Linked DNA regions of Homo sapiens: region 1 is linked to region 2. The links come from fine-mapping of genetic effects on gene expression. A gene starts in region 2. The other region holds a variant in brackets. All regions are shown on one strand. Distances are from middle to middle. Region 1 overlaps ACTN2 (actinin alpha 2). Region 2 holds the start of ACTN2 (actinin alpha 2).

What was found. PIP is the estimated chance that this variant, and not a neighbour inherited with it, causes the effect.
Region 1: its variant is the best candidate, but not a certain one, in a credible set for the expression of ACTN2 in lung (TOPMed, PIP 0.72).

Annotation. Positions count from the first base shown.
Region 1 is chr1:236,714,442-236,722,441 of GRCh38, forward strand. ACTN2 (actinin alpha 2) reads left to right here. Exons shown (of 21, transcript NM_001103.4): 2 at 3,417-3,531; 3 at 4,453-4,572; 4 at 5,664-5,750. Among named protein-coding and RNA genes, the nearest start is that of ACTN2, 32 kb to the left of the region's middle. The variant C/T (reference allele first, on the strand shown) is at 3,662.
Region 2 is chr1:236,680,929-236,689,694 of GRCh38, forward strand. It overlaps ACTN2 (actinin alpha 2), which reads left to right and starts at 5,571. Exons shown (of 21, transcript NM_001103.4): 1 at 5,571-5,871. The coding sequence starts at 5,746. RefSeq lists a silencer at 5,427-5,516 and an enhancer at 7,155-8,766.

The DNA of each region.
Region 1 (8,000 bases), 33 kb after region 2:
GAGACTGATAGCTTCATTCCTCACTGTGTGTTTATGTATACACAGATACCACTGAAGGGATATGCAAGAGACTGATAGCTTCATTCCTCACTGTGTGTTTATGTATACACAGATACCACTGAAGGGATATGCAAGAGACTGATAGCTTCATTCCTCACTGTGTGTTTATGTATACACAGATACCACTGAAGGGATATGCAAGAGACTGATAGCTTCATTCCTCACTGTGTGTTTATGTATACACAGATACCACTGAAGGGATATGCAAGAGACTGATAGCTTCATTCCTCACTGTGTGTTTATGTATACACAGATACCACTGAAGGGATATGCAAGAGACTGATAGCTTCATTCCTCACTGTGTGTTTATGTATACACAGATACCACTGAAGGGATATGCAAGAGACTGATAGCTTCATTCCTCACTGTGTGTTTATGTATACACAGATACCACTGAAGGGATATGCAAGAGACTGATAGCTTCATTCCTCACTGTGTGTTTATGTATACACAGATACCACTGAAGGGATATGCAAGAGACTGATAGCTTCATTCCTCACTGTGTGTTTATGTATACACAGATACCACTGAAGGGATATGCAAGAGACTGATAGCTTCATTCCTTATGGGGTAGGGCATTGGGTAGCCAAGGAACAAAGGTGAGAGGATGGATTTTTCTTTGAACCCTTTCGTACCACTTGAATTTCTTTTTCCTTTTTTTTTTTTTTATTCTACTTTAAGGTTTAGGGTACATGTGCACAACGTGTAGGTTTGTTACATATGTATACATGTGCCATGTTGGTGTGCTGCACCTATTAACTCGTCATTTAACATTAGGTATCTCTCCTAATCCTATCCCTCCCCCCTCCCCCCACCCTGTTACCACTTGAAGTTTTATACCAAAGAAACCTATTACTCATTCAAAAAATAAATACATAAAATTAATATGTTAAAAAATAAGTAATGAATTCTTATCATAATCTTACCTTCAAAAAACAAAACTTAATTATCTATAGTGTTGTCCAGTAGAATTTTCTGTGATGATAGGAATGTTGTATATTTGCACCATCCAATACTACTAGCCATATGTGGCTTTTGATCACTTAAAACATGACTTGTGCAACTGAGGAGCTAATTTTTAAATTTTATTTTAATTAGTCTAAGTTTAAGTGGCTACTTCTGGCTAGGAGCTACCACACTGATTGGGTATAGATCTAAAGTATATGGCTTAAGACCGAGTGTGGTGGCTCATGCCTGTAATCCCAGCACTTTGAGAGGCCGAGGCAGATGGATCACCTGAAGTCAGGAGTTTAAGACCAGTCTGGCCAACATGGCAAAACCCCGTCTCTACTAAAAATACAAAAATCAGCTAGGTGTGGTGGCAGGCACCTGTATTCCTAGCTACTAGGGTGGTTGAGGCGGGAGAATCACTTGAACTCGGGAGGCGGAGATTGCGGTGAGCTGAGATCATGCCACTGCACTCCAGCCTGGAAGCAAGACTCCGTCTCAAAAAATAAAAATAAAAAATAAAAATAAATAAAGTGGATGGCTTAGAGTATCTTTTCTGTTTAGACCTGACTAAAGCTTAGACATAATTGTTAGTTTAGGCTCTCAGGGTAAAATTTATTACTGTAAATCCAAAAAATCCCTTCTTCTTCTTTTTTTTTTTTTTTTTGGTCCTTGAATTAAATGCTGTCACCTCCTTCTTGAAAGGAGAAACTATTAGTCAGATTTGAAAATCCTCTTTATCACCCAGGAAAATCATTTTTATGGACACTTTGTCTTTCTGTAGTCTGACTTAGAAGCAGCCTGTTTTTGATAGGTTGAAGTTTTCATCTTGAACACAAACCCTGTTTGTGTGTCCCCTACTCCCCAGTTTGATGTGCCAGGCACTTTGTTCTCAAGCCCAGCAGCTGTTGTGGGATGAGGGGACATTTTGCATGCTTAGCCAGCAGCTGCCAGAAACATTTCTAATCTGGTTTTGGCAGGAAATAGGGCACAAGTGGAAGCCAAGTTAAAAGAAGCTGGAAAAATAAACAGAATAACTTTAGATGTCACTTAATATATGGTCCATTTTCAGCCGAAGATTTGCCCTAGTAATTTGTTAATATGACTGGACTGTGATCCCTTCCAAAGGCAGGGTTGAATATAGTCACCTTTGAGATCCAGGATGTAGTCCAGTGCTTGGAATATGCTTGTAGGAGGTTATTGTTATTATTTTTTCAATGATAGACTATACTGCAAATTTGTTTAATTGATTTAATTAGTAGCTTAAAACTGTTGTTCACCCGAGATAAACTAGTTCTAGGTTATCACTGGTTATGGGTCCCTTCTCTCTTCTTTCTGCTACACAATATCACCCACCCTCTCCTCTAAAGCAACACATTTTGAACATTTTTTTTTTTTTTTTTGAGACAGAGTCTCACTCTGTCACCCAGACTGGAGTGCAGTAGTATGATCTTGGCTTGCTGCAACCTCCGCCTCCTGGTTTCAAGCTACTTCCCTGCCTGAGCCTCTTGAGTAGCTGGGACTACAGGCACACGTTACCACACCCAGCTAATTTTTGTATTTTTAGTAGAGACGGGGTTTTACCATGTTGGTCAGGCTGGTCTCGAACTCCTGACCTCAAGTGATCTGCCCTGCCTCAGCCTCCCAAAGTGCTGGGATTACAGGTGTGAGTCATCACACCTGGCCTTTGAACATTCTTCAAACATTATTTAGACTGGGCATGGTGGCTCATGCCTGTAATCCCAGCACTTTGGGAGGCTGAGGCAAGAGGATTGCTTGAGTCTAGGAGTTTGAGACCAGCCTGGGCAACATAGCAAGACCCCATCTCTAAAAAAAAATTAGCTAGGTGTGGTCGTGCATGCCTATAGTCCCAGCTACTTAGGGGGCTGAGGCAGGAGGATCAGTTGAGCCTGGGAGGTTGAGGCTGCAGTGAGCCATGATCACACCACTGTTCTCCAGCCTGGGTGACAGAGCTGGATGACCCTGTCTCCAAAACAAAACAAAACACTGTTATTTATTCATCTATTCTGCTGCAAGCAAGCATATTTTGCATATTTGTGAGCAAGAAATAAGCACATCTTAATTTAATCTATCTTTTCTACAAAGTAAAAGGGTTTCAAAAGGTGAAGATACAGGTATAAATGTGGTGTCTTTTTAAATGGAAGGCAAAAATTCTTCAGGTTGGAATATCCAATAAGAGAGTCTTTATCTCTAAAGTGGAAAATTTACTAAAATCGTTCTTTTGGGTTTCCAGTTCTTCTTTCCATCAAATTCTGCATCCTCTAGAAGCCCAAGCAGCCCCAGCCTTGTAGATTCCCAAGAACGTGTAAGGTGTCAAGTGTCGTCTGTGAGGAAGGGATCTGAAATCCGATGGACCTGTGCTAAACCGTGTTTGGTTTTCTTTGCAGACCTTCACTGCCTGGTGTAACTCCCACCTAAGGAAAGCCGGCACCCAGATTGAGAACATCGAGGAAGACTTCAGGAATGGCCTTAAGCTCATGCTGCTTTTGGAAGTCATCTCAGGTTGGTGTTATATATCCCATCCTATGCTTTCATGTGTTATCAGTAGGTGAGCATCTATTTAAAGATGACTACATCAGAAGTTCGCTTTGAACTTGGCTGGGCAAGAACATGGTATTATTGCCAAAGAAAA[C/T]CTTTCCAAAGAACAATCTGCCTGGAGTTATTTTTCCGTTCTAAAAAAAGGAGTGAATTCTCTTTAAAAATCACTTATTAAAATAATGTTTATACCACCAAGCTTGAAACAAAATAAGAGAAGAAAAAATGACTTCACACGACTCCCTCCATGCTGCCCTTTCTACTCTTCGTCCAGCTAGAGTGTATTCCAGAAATCATCTTGTATCCAAAAATCTACTGTACATGTTGGCAGAACTCTGAACATATAAGCTAAAATCCCAGTGGGGCTATGATTTGTCCTGAATTTCAGTTGGCTGATTTAGACTTTGGACTAGAGAATGGATCACCTTTGGAGAAGTGTGACTGGGAAGGATTATGGCAGATCTGCCCTGATCCATCTGTCTTCATAATCAGGTGTCGAACGAGCCCTGGCAGCCACCTCTGTGATTTTAACTGGCCATCCTGACTTCCTCTAACCGTTAGCCAGCAACTCTGAATACTCCAGGGACTCTAACCAGCTTCTCTTTTTACTCATTTGTAAGTTGGATCATGGGCCAAACCAGACTCTCCCTGCAGATCTGAAAAGCATGTGTCCTTCATAGTATGGCTCCCTGCTGGTCCATTTGATTCTGAAAGTTTCTGGGTTAGTGTTCCCTCATTGCTGTGATTTAGAGAGACCAGGCACACATCAGAAATAGTCATGTAACCTTCTCTTTTTAAGGAAAAGATGGATGCTTAGTTTTGGCATCTTGATTCCGCATCAAGAGGTCACTGTCTCTATGTCTGCATGATTCTCTTTTCATCCAACAGGGGAAAGGCTGCCCAAACCTGACCGGGGAAAAATGCGGTTCCACAAAATTGCTAATGTCAACAAAGCTTTGGATTACATAGCCAGCAAAGGGGTGAAACTGGTGTCCATTGGCGCTGAAGGTGAGAGGTGTGGTGGGTGGTCCTGTCTGCCACACTGACCTAATAGCGTAGGTGTGGGCTGCGACTTGAATTCTCCCCTTCTTCCCTCCCTTTCACCATTTACTGTACCTGCCTTGTATCAGGCTCTCTCTTAGGGCGCTCGGTGCACAAAGATAAGAACAAATGGTACCATGAGTGGGAGACCAAGCTCTAGGTTCTTTGTAAAGCATAGAATTAAATATAATGCTGTCATCTTCAGAAGACTTAAAGGACTGAGAAAGAACTTACACATCCCAATGACTCTTAATAAGAACTAACTAATAGGAAGGAAGTGGCCTCTTTGTTCTCTATGGGAGACTGGGAATTTGGTGAGGTCAGCGGGAGCTGAGATTTCCACCCATATCTCTGTATGCACAACTGAGTCCTGCTACTTGTCAGCTGCGGAATGCCGTAAGAAGGGTCAGGGTAAAGATGAGACTGTGTTCTCTTTATTTGATTATTTAAAACTTTAGCTCATGGCTGGGCACAGTGGCTCATGCTCATCCCAGCACTTTGAGAGGCTGAGGCGGGTAGATCACCTGAGGTGAGGAGTTCAAGACCAGCCTGGCCAACGTGGTGAAACCCCATCTCTACTAAATTTACAAAAAATTAGCTGGGTGTGGTGGCGCATGCCTGTAGTCCTTGTAGTCCCAGCTACTCAGGAGGTTGAGGCAGGAGAATTGCTTGATCCCAGGAGGCGGAGGTTGCAGTGAGCCACGGTTGTGTCACTGCACTGCGGCCTGGGCGACAGAGTGAGACTCCATCTCAAAAAAAAAAAAAAACCTTAGCTATTACATCTTAAAACTTTGGAAACTCCCGGGTGGTTTTCACTGATAATACATATGCAAGATTTGTGCTTATTATTAACTTAGAATTTATTTAAACTAGAGACATTTGGTTATGAATACTGTATTTATAACCAGACATACTGCGGTGCTTATAAAAACATAAACTGGTCTTTCCATCCATATGCACATTTTCCAATAGCTCTGAAGTCAACATTTATATATAGGAAAAAAGTTACGTACAGACTATGTTATCTTTACATTAATTTGTTGTTTTCTTACCTGCAGAAATTGTTGATGGCAACGTGAAAATGACCCTGGGTATGATCTGGACCATCATCCTTCGCTTTGCTATTCAGGATATTTCGGTTGAAGGTAAAAGACATGGTTAAAAGTCTAATTGTATAATCTGTAAATTGAGCTTGTGAATTAAAATTTGAGCAAGATGTTTTAAAGTCCAACAGTCACTTACATGATTGAATGAGAGACATGTAAGTGGGTTCTTATAAATTTTGTATGTGTATAGGAAAAGACCTCGGCAGCACTGTTTCATTCATGGGGGTGGAATCGGTTTGCAAAAGATGAGCACATGTTCAGAACAGAAGTCGCTTTTTAAAATGAGCATTTATTGAGCTTCTTGATTGCTTATTATACTAGTAAATTTACAGCTATGGCAGAGTTCTTTAGTCTTACAACTGAAACACTTTCTTTCCCCCTGGTATAAAAAAAGAATCTGTTGCAACCCATGTTTGTTATTTCCTTAACTTTCTTCCTCCCTATCTCTCTCCCTCTCTTTTTCTTTTTTCTTCTTTTTCTTTTTAAACAAGACCTCTATTGTCACTGTATCTTTTGGCCTAACTACTGTTTCATCATTATCATAGAATCTTAATCCTTGACACTGCCACTGAAGATAAAAATCTTTAGTCTTTTACACCAACTACACTCCCAAATATTTTGATGAATTCAGCACTGTTGAAAAGTGTCAAATTGGCATTCTTAAAATTGGAACTTTGCCTGTTTGGCCCTCAAATCACAAAGTGTATAACTGCAGAATGTGTTTCAGGGCTGCTGCATTGTCCAACTATTTGGCCCCTTCTGACTCTGTAATCCAGTAGGTAACCAGGTACCTGAGTGGTAAGGGGTGGAGACGTTATTTATAATTCTGCCCAGGCCACAGTAGCCTCTGACTCTGGTTTTTGTTTTTTGTTTTTTTTTTTTTTTTTTTTTTTGAGACGGAGTCTCACTCTGGCACCCAGGCTGGAGTTCAGTGGCGCGATCTTGGCTCACTGCAAGCTCTGCCTCCTGGGTCCACGCCATTCTCCTGCCTCAGCCTCACGAGTAGCTGGGACTACAGGCGCCCACCACCATGCTGGCTAATTTTTCATATTTTTAGTAGAGACGGGGTTTCACTGTGTTAGCCAGGATGGTCTCGATCTCCTGAGCTCGTGATCCGCCCGCCTCAGCCTCCCAAAGTGCTGGGATTACAGGCATGAGACTCTGGTCTTTTTAAGTGATTTTAGGTACTCATCAACCAACAAACATTAAGAAACAACACTTTGCCTACTTGTACCAGCTGACATGAAGCCTGCAGTACTTGCCCTTATGGACCTTCAAACTCACTTCAATTATTCCCTTCTGGCACCGGAGACCGACTTATGTCATCTAAAAGTCAAACTAAAATCTAATGGCATTAAAACAATTCAAGCTCAGGAATGACAGCCAGCTTGAATTAATACATAGTCTGACTTTGAAAACTTTTGTACAATATAGTTCTATTACAGTACCTTCCTTTATGCTAATGAAAGAAACAAGAGGCTTCCTAAAATTCTTGCTTTATTTAAAAATTGTAAGTTGTAATAATTTTATCAGTTTTTATATACTTCTAAATTTAAATATTTAAACTGTTGAACCCACTTTAAATAAATACTACTTTTAGAAATCTTGGTCACACTGTTGCTGGTCTAGCAAATCCTTTTTCCACAAATATTACAGAGGTGAAGTTGACCTCAAGTTGTTTCTGATTGGTTACAAATTTTAAATTAGTGATAATATGAATTCAAACTTAATTATATTTCAAGTGTAGGTATGAATGGTATTATCCATTAGAGTTTTCCCCAAAATTGTTATTAACATGCCCAAAGCAAGATAGCTAAATCACAATATTTTGTAAAATTTTGCGATAAAAGGCTATATTAATCTGCTCTTCACAAGACTAAGAAATTAAACATTAAAAAATTATAATTTTATTAGGAAAGTACCTACTAGATCTCTTCAAGCAGATGGTTCTGCAGTGTCCAACACAGTAGATACTGTCAGTTTGCTAATTTATATTTTTATTTGTTTTAGTTTCATGGAGTAATTGTTTAACAACCTCATTTAACTTCTGTAAGTCTACAGAAAAATCATCTTTATTTGTTTTAATGATGTGTGGTATGTTGAAAAATTCATTGTTATTAGAATCAAAGAAACAATTCTTTGAGGAGTGAGTTTCCTTCAGCAAAATGATGGGCCTCTTCCAAGAAAGAAAATGAGAGATTAGGCCGGGCGCGGTGGCTCACGCCTGTAACCCCAGCACTTTGGGAGGCCAAGGTGAGTGGATCATGAGGTCAGCAGTTCGAGACCAGC
Region 2 (8,766 bases):
ATCACTTTCTAAAATTCTTTAAAATTTTTTTCTTTGATCCATGGGTTAACTAAAAATGTGTTATTGAATTTCAGGTATCCAAGGAATTTTCAGAGATCTTTCTGACTACTAACTTAATTCCATTGTTATCTGAGAACACTCACTTTATGATTGAATTTTTTAAATTTATTGAGAGTTGTTTTACAGCCCTGAAAATGACCTGTCTTGATTTTCATGCTGGTTCCCCATAACCTCCAAGTCCCATTGAGGTGACAGCAAAGGGCTCATAATGAAAGCCTGCACACACAGTGAGTCTCGTTATAGAAGAGGAACACTGAGCTTGTGCCGCAGGAACTTTTATAGCAACCAAAAGCAAGACATTTTTGCTTGGGAGTAGATCTTACTGCATTTGTCAAGGCTGCACATTGCAAACACAACCCTGAGAAATGGGCGGGGTAAAGAGCTGTCAGGGTCCTATCATTTCTGGCAGACCAGCAAGAATGTGCAGACATATTCAGGACAGATGGTGAATTGTTCTTTCAGCAAACTCACTGAAGCTCTTTTCATTCTTTTGGATTATTTTTTCTTTCTGTGTTTCATTTTGGGTTGTTTCTATTGCTATGCTTTCAAAGTTCACTAATCTCTTCTCCACTGTCTAATCTTCCCTTAATGCCATTCAGTGTATTCTACTTCTCAGACATTTTAGTTTTCATCTCTGGAAGTTTTATTTGAGTCTTTTAAAACGTATCTTTCATATCTGTATTTAAGTTTTTGAACATACAGAATACAGTCATAGAAACTGTTTTAATGTCCTTATCTGCTAACTTTAACATCTGTTAGTCCTAAGTCAGCTTCAATTGATTTATATTCTCATTATTATGGGTGTGTTTTCCGTCTCTTGGTATGTCTGGTAATCTTTTAACTTTAATTTTTTTATTTTTTGAGACAGAGTCTCACTGTATCACCCAGGCTGGAGTGCAGGGGCGTGATCTTAGCTCACTGTAGCCTCTGCCTCCTGGGTTCAAGTGATTCTCCTGCCTCGTCCTCCCAAGTAGCTGGGATTACAGGCACCCACCACCACACCCGGCTAATTTTTGTATTTTTGTAGAGACGGGGTTTCACCTTGTTGGTCAGGCTGGTCTCAAACTCCTGACCTCAGGTGATCCACCCGCCTCAGCCCCCCAAAATGCTGGGATTACAGGTGTGAGCTACCACGCCCCGCCATGCCTGGTAATCTTGTATTGAATGTCAGGTTTTGTGATGTTTTACCTTGTTGGGTGCTGGATATTTTTGTATGCCTATAAATATTCTTGAGCTTTGTTTTGTGATGCAGTTACTTGGAAATGGTTTTAATCTTTTGGGTCTTGTTTTTATGATTTGGTTAACCAGCTTAGAGCAGTGCTCTATTTAGGACTAATCATTCGGCACTGCTGAGGCAAGACCTTCCTAAGTATTCTACTCAGTGCTCTGTGAATGATCAGTTTTTTCCAGTCCTGCGGGTGGAAGGCAGTGGTTGTTTCAGGAAGAATTATCCCAGTTCCCCATACTCCACCTTCGCCACAAGTGGAAGTCCCCTTACTAACTTCTTGACTTTGTCTGTTACTTCTTAAAGTACTTTTTTTTTTTTTCCTGTTCTCCCACTTCAGAGACTCCAGTTACTTGGATACTAAGCTGCATGAAGGCTTCTCACAGCTCACAGATCCTCTGGTCATTTCTTATTTTATTTTATTTTTTTTGAGACGGAGTCTCACTTTGTTGCCCAGATTGCAGTGCAGTGGTGCGATCTCGGCTCACTGCAACCTCCACCTCCCGGTTCAAGCGATTCTCCTGCCTCAGCCTCCCGAGTAGCTGGGATTACAGGTGCCCACCACCGTGCCCGGCTATTTTTGTATTTTTAGTAGAGACGGGGTTTCACCCTGTTGGCCAGGCTGGTCTTGAACTCCTGCCTTCAGGTGATCCGCCCACCTTGGCCTCTCAAAGTGCTGGGATTACAGGCGTGAGCCACTGCGCCTGGCCGTGCTCATTTCTTAAACCTGTTTTCTCTCTGTGTGTTTCATACTGGATTTTTTTCTACTGCTATGCCTTCAAGTTCACTCATCTTTTCTAATGCAGTATCTATAGGCAAACGCGTTTAGTGTATTTTAAAATTTCAGATGTAGTTTTCATCTCTAGATATTAAATTTTTCATATCTCCTCTGTCTCTACTTGTCAGGTTCAATCTTTCCTCTAGCTTCTTAAATATATGGAATATAGCAATAATCACTCTTTTAATGTTCCTTTCTACTAATTCTATCATCTGTGTCAATTCTAGGTCAGTTTTGATTGATGGATTGTTCTCATTATGGATCATATGTGCCTGCTTCTTTGCACACCTGTGAAAAATTTGGTAATATTTCACAGGTGGCAGAAATTGCAAATTTTACCTTTGGGTAAAATTTGAGTGTTGAATGTTTTCATATTCCTATAGATATGTTTGAGCTTTGATCTGGGACATGGTTAAGTTACTTGGAAATTACGATTTTCAGGTCATGCTTTTCAGGTTTTGCAGGCAGGACAAGTACAATATTTCATCAGGAGCTAATTTCCCTCCAGGTTGGAGTACTCTGATGCTTTGTGGATTATAAGGTTTTCCACCCTGGCTGATGGAAACAGGAACTATTCCTGGCCCGTTATGAATTTAAGAATCATTCCTTCTATTCCTTTCGGGACCTTCTTTCCTTGGCCTCAGGCAGTTTCCTCTCATGTATTCACTGATCAGATTCCAGGGAACAGCAAATCTCCAGGATTCTCTCTCTTTGCAGCTCCATTTTCTGCTGTAATTGGCCTTGCAAATTCTAATGTTTGGTCTCTCTGAACTCTCAGTTTATGGAGACCAGTAAGCTGTGCCTGGGTACCTCTTTGTTGCATTGCATCTTGAAAGTTTTCTCCAGACTGTAAGCTGGGGCAATTGCAGTACTCACATCATTTATTTTCTGCCTCTGAGGGTTCATTGTCCCTCTTTGCCTGATGACTAATGTCTTGAAAACCATTGTTTTATGTGTTTTTTTCCCCAGGCTTTAGTTGTTTCAGGCAGGATGGTAAATCTGGCGCTGTTTTTTCCATCTCATGAAGTCCCCACGTTAATTTTTGAAAACTAAGTTGAACGATGTAGCACTTTTTGTAATTGTACATCCAATTTCTTTTCTTTTCTTTCTTTCTTTTTTTATTTTTTTTTGAGATGGAATTTTGCTCTTGTCGCCCAGGCTGGAGTACAGTGGCGCAATTTCTGCTCACTGCAACCTCCACCTCCTGAGTTCAAGCGATTCTCCTGCCTCAGCCTCCTGAGTAGCTGGGATTACAGGTGCATGCCACCACAGCCAGCTAATTTTTTTATTTTTATTTTTTTTAGTAGAGATGGGGTTTCATCATGTTGGCCAGGCTGGTCTTGAACTCCCAACCTCAGGTGATCTACCCACCTCGGCCTCCCAAAGTGTTGGGATTACAGGCCTGAGCCACTGTGCCCGGCCCAGTTTCTAATAGGTAAAATTTATTGATCCACTTGTTTCAAGAGTATGATTTTAATCCAAAATATAAACTCTAAATTTTAAATTTAAATCCAAGTAAATTAGCTCAGTCACTATTTCCAGGGATACTACTTCTCTCAACAAATGAGCACCACTGTGCGGTGGACACGCCTGTAGTTGCTGGGGTCTACAACTGTGGACGAGACAAAATCCCTGCGTTTGAGGAATTTACATCCTAGTGAGAATGTTTTTGAAAATGTTAATGTGGCGGGGCGTGGTGGCTCACACCTGTAATCCCCACTTTTGAAGGCTGAGGCAGGTGGATCACCTGAGGTTGGGAGTTCGAGACCAGCCTAACCAACATGGAAAAACCCCGTCTCTACTAAAAATACAAAATTAGCCGGGTGTGGTGGCACATGCCTGTAATCCCAGCTACTCCGGAGGCTGAGGCAGGAGAATCGCTTGAACCGGAGAGGTGGACGTTGCGGTGAGCCGAGATCGTGCTCTTGCACTCCAGCCTGGGCAACAAGAGTGAAGCTCCATCTCAAAACAAAACAAAACAAAACAAAGTTAATGCAACCTGTTTGCTAATTGTTATCTTTCTGCATAAAGCCCCAAACAGTAACGGTGAGTGATGTAAAAATTCTAAGGAACAATGATAAATCCAGACAAACTCAACTTGAAACATGTCCACAAATTAGTAGCCCTGAATCACAAAAAATTCTGTAGCATCTGTGGGCAACGTTTATTCAATTGAGATATAAACTGAATTGCAGGCAGGCATCCCATCAGCTCGTCTGGTGCCTAAGGCAACCTCTGGTTTACAGTAGTTGCTTAATACATATTTGATTTAAAAATTTCAGCCTACTTGTCCCAAGGGTCCTCATTTTGCTTCCTGCGGCAGCATAACTGATAGGGAACAGCTAGCCAGCACTAGGGGGATGAAAAGGCGTTAAGTGCAACCCACAGGGCGACATGGAAATATAACACGAAGCTGGCCGCTTGCCCTTCATTGTCAGCTCTCTTAAATTTATGCCCGGTAGGTGAGAGCTGACACTTCCTGCCTTTGGTTTGGTTCCTAACATTTTAATAGGATGGATCCAAATCCTGTGCCTTGATTTCCCCAGGTGAGGGTGAGGAGGAGAGAAAGAAGAGGGGGGTTCTGTAGCTTTTAAACTTTACTCCTTAGGGGCCTGTATGTATGTATGTGTGTGTGTGTGTGAGAGGGAGGAAGAGAAACAGAGAGAGAGAAGAGAGAGACAGAGATGAGAGAGGTATGAGAGACACAGGAGAGAGAGACAGATGAGAGAGAGAAAGAGAGACACGACAGAGAGAGAGAGACGAGAGAGAGAGAGACACGGGAGAGAGAGACAGAGGAGAGAAGAGGAGAGGAGAGAGACACGAGAGACAGATGAGAGACAGTGAGACACGAGAGAGAGAGAGAGATGAGAGGAGAGAGAGACATGTGAGAGAGACACAGGAGAGACAGAGATGAGAGAGAGATATGAGAGAGATCTATGAGAGAGAGACACTGGAGAAAGAGGGACAGAGATGAGAGAGAGACAGACGAGAGACAGACACAAGAGAGAGGGACCGATGAGCGGAAAGAGAGGCACGAGAGAGAGATGAGAGAGAGAGAAGAGGGGTCTCCAATGAATATGTGGGAATATATGGAAAACGCGAATATCCAAATGATATTTGGAAAACTTGGCTGTGTTGGGGTGGTCAGGGACCCAGCCTCTTAGGTGTCCCTCCCCTGGCTCGCGATCACCCACCCGGGACACCGACGGACCCCGCGCCGCTAACCAGCCGCTCTCAGAGCGTGGGTGGCAGGCGTGGCTCTGCTCGGGGCCGGCCGCTCCCCTCACGTTCCCGGAGGCCTCGGCGGAAGGCGTGCAGGCGGCCTCTGGGCGGCGGCTGCAGGGGAGACAGTGGAGGGGCCCGGCGCCCTTGTCCGCCCGCACGTGCTCGGGGCGGGGCGGCTGGGGCCCGACGGGCGGGGCCGGGGGCGGTGGCGGCGGGGGCGTGGCCGGGCGGCCACGTGACGGGCGGCGCGGCTATTAAGCCGCGCGGCAGCTGCTCGCAGCCGGAGCTGGTGCTTCGCCCGAGACCCAGCGCCCAGGCGTGTCGCCCCGAGAGGAGCCGCGCGAAGGTCACCCCGCGCCCGCCGCCCGCCGCCCGCCGCCTCCGTGGGTCCGTTTGCCAGTCAGCCCGTGCGTCCGAGCCCCTCGCGCCCCGCCGCAGCCCCGGCCAACCGAGCGCCATGAACCAGATAGAGCCCGGCGTGCAGTACAACTACGTGTACGACGAGGATGAGTACATGATCCAGGAGGAGGAGTGGGACCGCGACCTGCTCCTGGACCCAGCCTGGGAGAAGCAGCAGAGGAAGGTCAGCAGGGGCCCGCGGGCCGCCCGCGCGTGGTGGGGCCGGGTCCCCCGCGGGGCTCCCGTGCGCGTGGCCGCGTGGCCTGGCGACTGGCGAGAGGGCGCTTTGTGGAGGTGCTGTGCTGTCCTGTGCCCTCGCAGCCCCGGGGGCCCCTTAGGAAAGAGGACACGTCCGGGGACAGGCAGGACACTGGGCGTCGTGTGTGTGCGCGCGCGCTAGCAGCATCGGAGGTACAGATGTGGTTCTGTTCCTCACACCAACCCGCGTTAGACCAGATCTGAAGGGGTCTCTGGTCTGCTCCTGACCCCTTGAGTCTGTGACCTTGGCCCCCGAGTTATACTCTCCTGGCCCGCTTGTGTCCATTTACCCCAGCCTCTCTCTTCCCCATTGAAAGAAGCAAAAGAACATCAGCTTCATTGCAATTTCCACCGGGCTGCCCCTAGAGTCATGGAAAGTCATTTATTCAATCTTTTGGGTTCCTTGGAGAGGGATGTTGTATGAACACTAGACATTTACCGATAGTGACAATTATTTCACACTCTATTTATAATTCATTGAGGTAAGCACACAGGGACGAAGGAGTCAGCCAGCTTCTAAAAGCTCCCTCCCCATTTTGATTGGCGTTCTCTGGGGGCCCAGTGGAACATTCCACTTTTTCAAGGTTTCCTCTTGATCCTCTTGGCTGGAATAAATAGGGAATGCTCACCAGGAGGCTTAATCCCGCCTCTTACTTGACTAGGCAGGGAGCCTGGTTGGGTCAGACATGACAACAGAGACCTGCCAACCCAACCTTAAGATAACGGGGTTATGGCAAAAGCCAAACGCTCTGAACTTTTTTCCGCCTATTTTTCTGGGCGTGGGGCAAGATAGATTTCCCTTCTAAGGACCTGCTTTAGGTGGATAGCCTGTGGTGACCATAGTGTGTATGGGAATCTCTGTATAATGGGTACTGTAGCTGATTGTGCGATAGTATTTGGTGAATAGGGGTATGATGGTGGAGAACACACATCCCAAACTCCTCTCGCAGCAAACAGCGTTAGCTGGAAGGAGAGATGATTATCAAATAACCAAGCACTATTTTTATATCAGGATGTCTCTTGTCTACCCTCTCTCCTAAAATACCATTTACTATTATTATTTTAAAGCTCTAATTTAGCTACATTTCAGTCTCTCCCCGAGTTTCTTAAGGCTTTTACCATCCCTACCTTTCTTAGAAAATGGGAGTAATAAATAGAAAAAAACAAAACTTCAAGCCGTCTACTATTGTTTAAAGGACTGATTGTGAAGGAAGTACGAGGCATGAGGATTACTAATGTGTCATCTGGACCAGCTGATGCATCATCCATCAGCACGAAGTTAAAAAGTGACTTTAATTTTTAGCAGTGAGTGTTTTTTTTTAAAAGAATTTCCCCAAATTTTGATTACTGCACTTTTCATGGATTAAAAAAAAAGATAACTCCCGGGTCTTTGTTTTAAAAATTGCTTTCTTATGAGGAATTGTAAAATAGCTAAGGAATTGGACAGGTAGTCTGCCCATCATTTTTGAAAGTGATGGTCTAATCACAGTGCTTTCTGTTGCCTTTTTTTTTTTTAAGTACAGTACAGTAGCAGGATAGAGGTAATGACAGTTTCCAGAGGCCACATTGACATCCCTTCTGCCATATTTAATCTTTTAACTTATTTGCAGTATTTTTGGATATATGGCTTCGAATTCTTTTAGGTTTGGGATTCCTATGTTGACTGTATTATTATAATTGCATAGCACTTGAAGTAAAGTTGATTATTTAAAAATAACATACTTCCTGATCCCAGTCCAAAATAATGTTAGAAAGTTTAAGGTGAGAATTTTTTTTAAGATAGTTTGAATGTTGTACATGCTTGGGGGGCAAAAACTACATTAGGAGAGATCTAGAAGATTCTCTATTTCTACTTTTGGTATAGACCCTGCTCAAGTCAGTAAAATAATATTGAACTGTGAGCTCAGTGTGGCCAGAGCAGTGGCCTCTATTTATGTCCCATGAGACAAACTGCTGGAACCGGACAAGGGTAAAATACCATTGTTTCTATTGTGGGCTGCCTTCTCCACACTTGCCATTTCAGTGATATGCTGGGTATGAGATCTGTCAACAGATGCTGGTAGCACATGATGACGTCCGTGGCGTTATAATGGATGTGATGCCTAATTATATCTACAGTTCAGAGAGTCTCATGGGCTATGGTAATCCTTGCTCTGTGGTGTGGAAGGAAAGCCTTGCTGTAGAAGGACTTTATAAAAGTGTAATGAGTTTTATAAGAGAAGGGAATGCAGAAGATAGTGGGTTTAGCATGAGTGCGAATAGGCGTTTCAACGTGTCTACCTTCTCTTTCAAGAGTGTGTTAGGAAGAGTGTGTTACACAGAAGAGTGTGTTAATAGGGTTAGGAATATTTATATTTTCTATAAAGAAGTATTTTAATTCATACAACTCAAGGGTAGAAGAAAAATGCCTGCAGTATTACAGATGTGATATATATATATATATATATATATATATATATATATATACACACACATATGTATATTTTATATATATATATAAAATATGTAATGTTTAGAGACAGGATTTTTCTCTGTTGCCCAGGCTGGAGTACAGTGGCATGATAATAGCTCACTGTAGCCTTGACCTCCTGGGCTCAAGTGACCTCCATGACGTCAAGGCATGCACCACCACACATGGCTAATTTTTTTATTTTAAAAACTTTTTTTGTAGAGACAGGGTCTCACTGTGTTGCCCAGGCTGGTCTTGAACTCCTGGCCATTCTCCCACCTTGGCTTCTTAAAGTGCTGATACTAAGGATATGAGCCACGATGCTCAGCCCCAGATACAATATTTTAAGACACTGAAATGCTGAGACACACT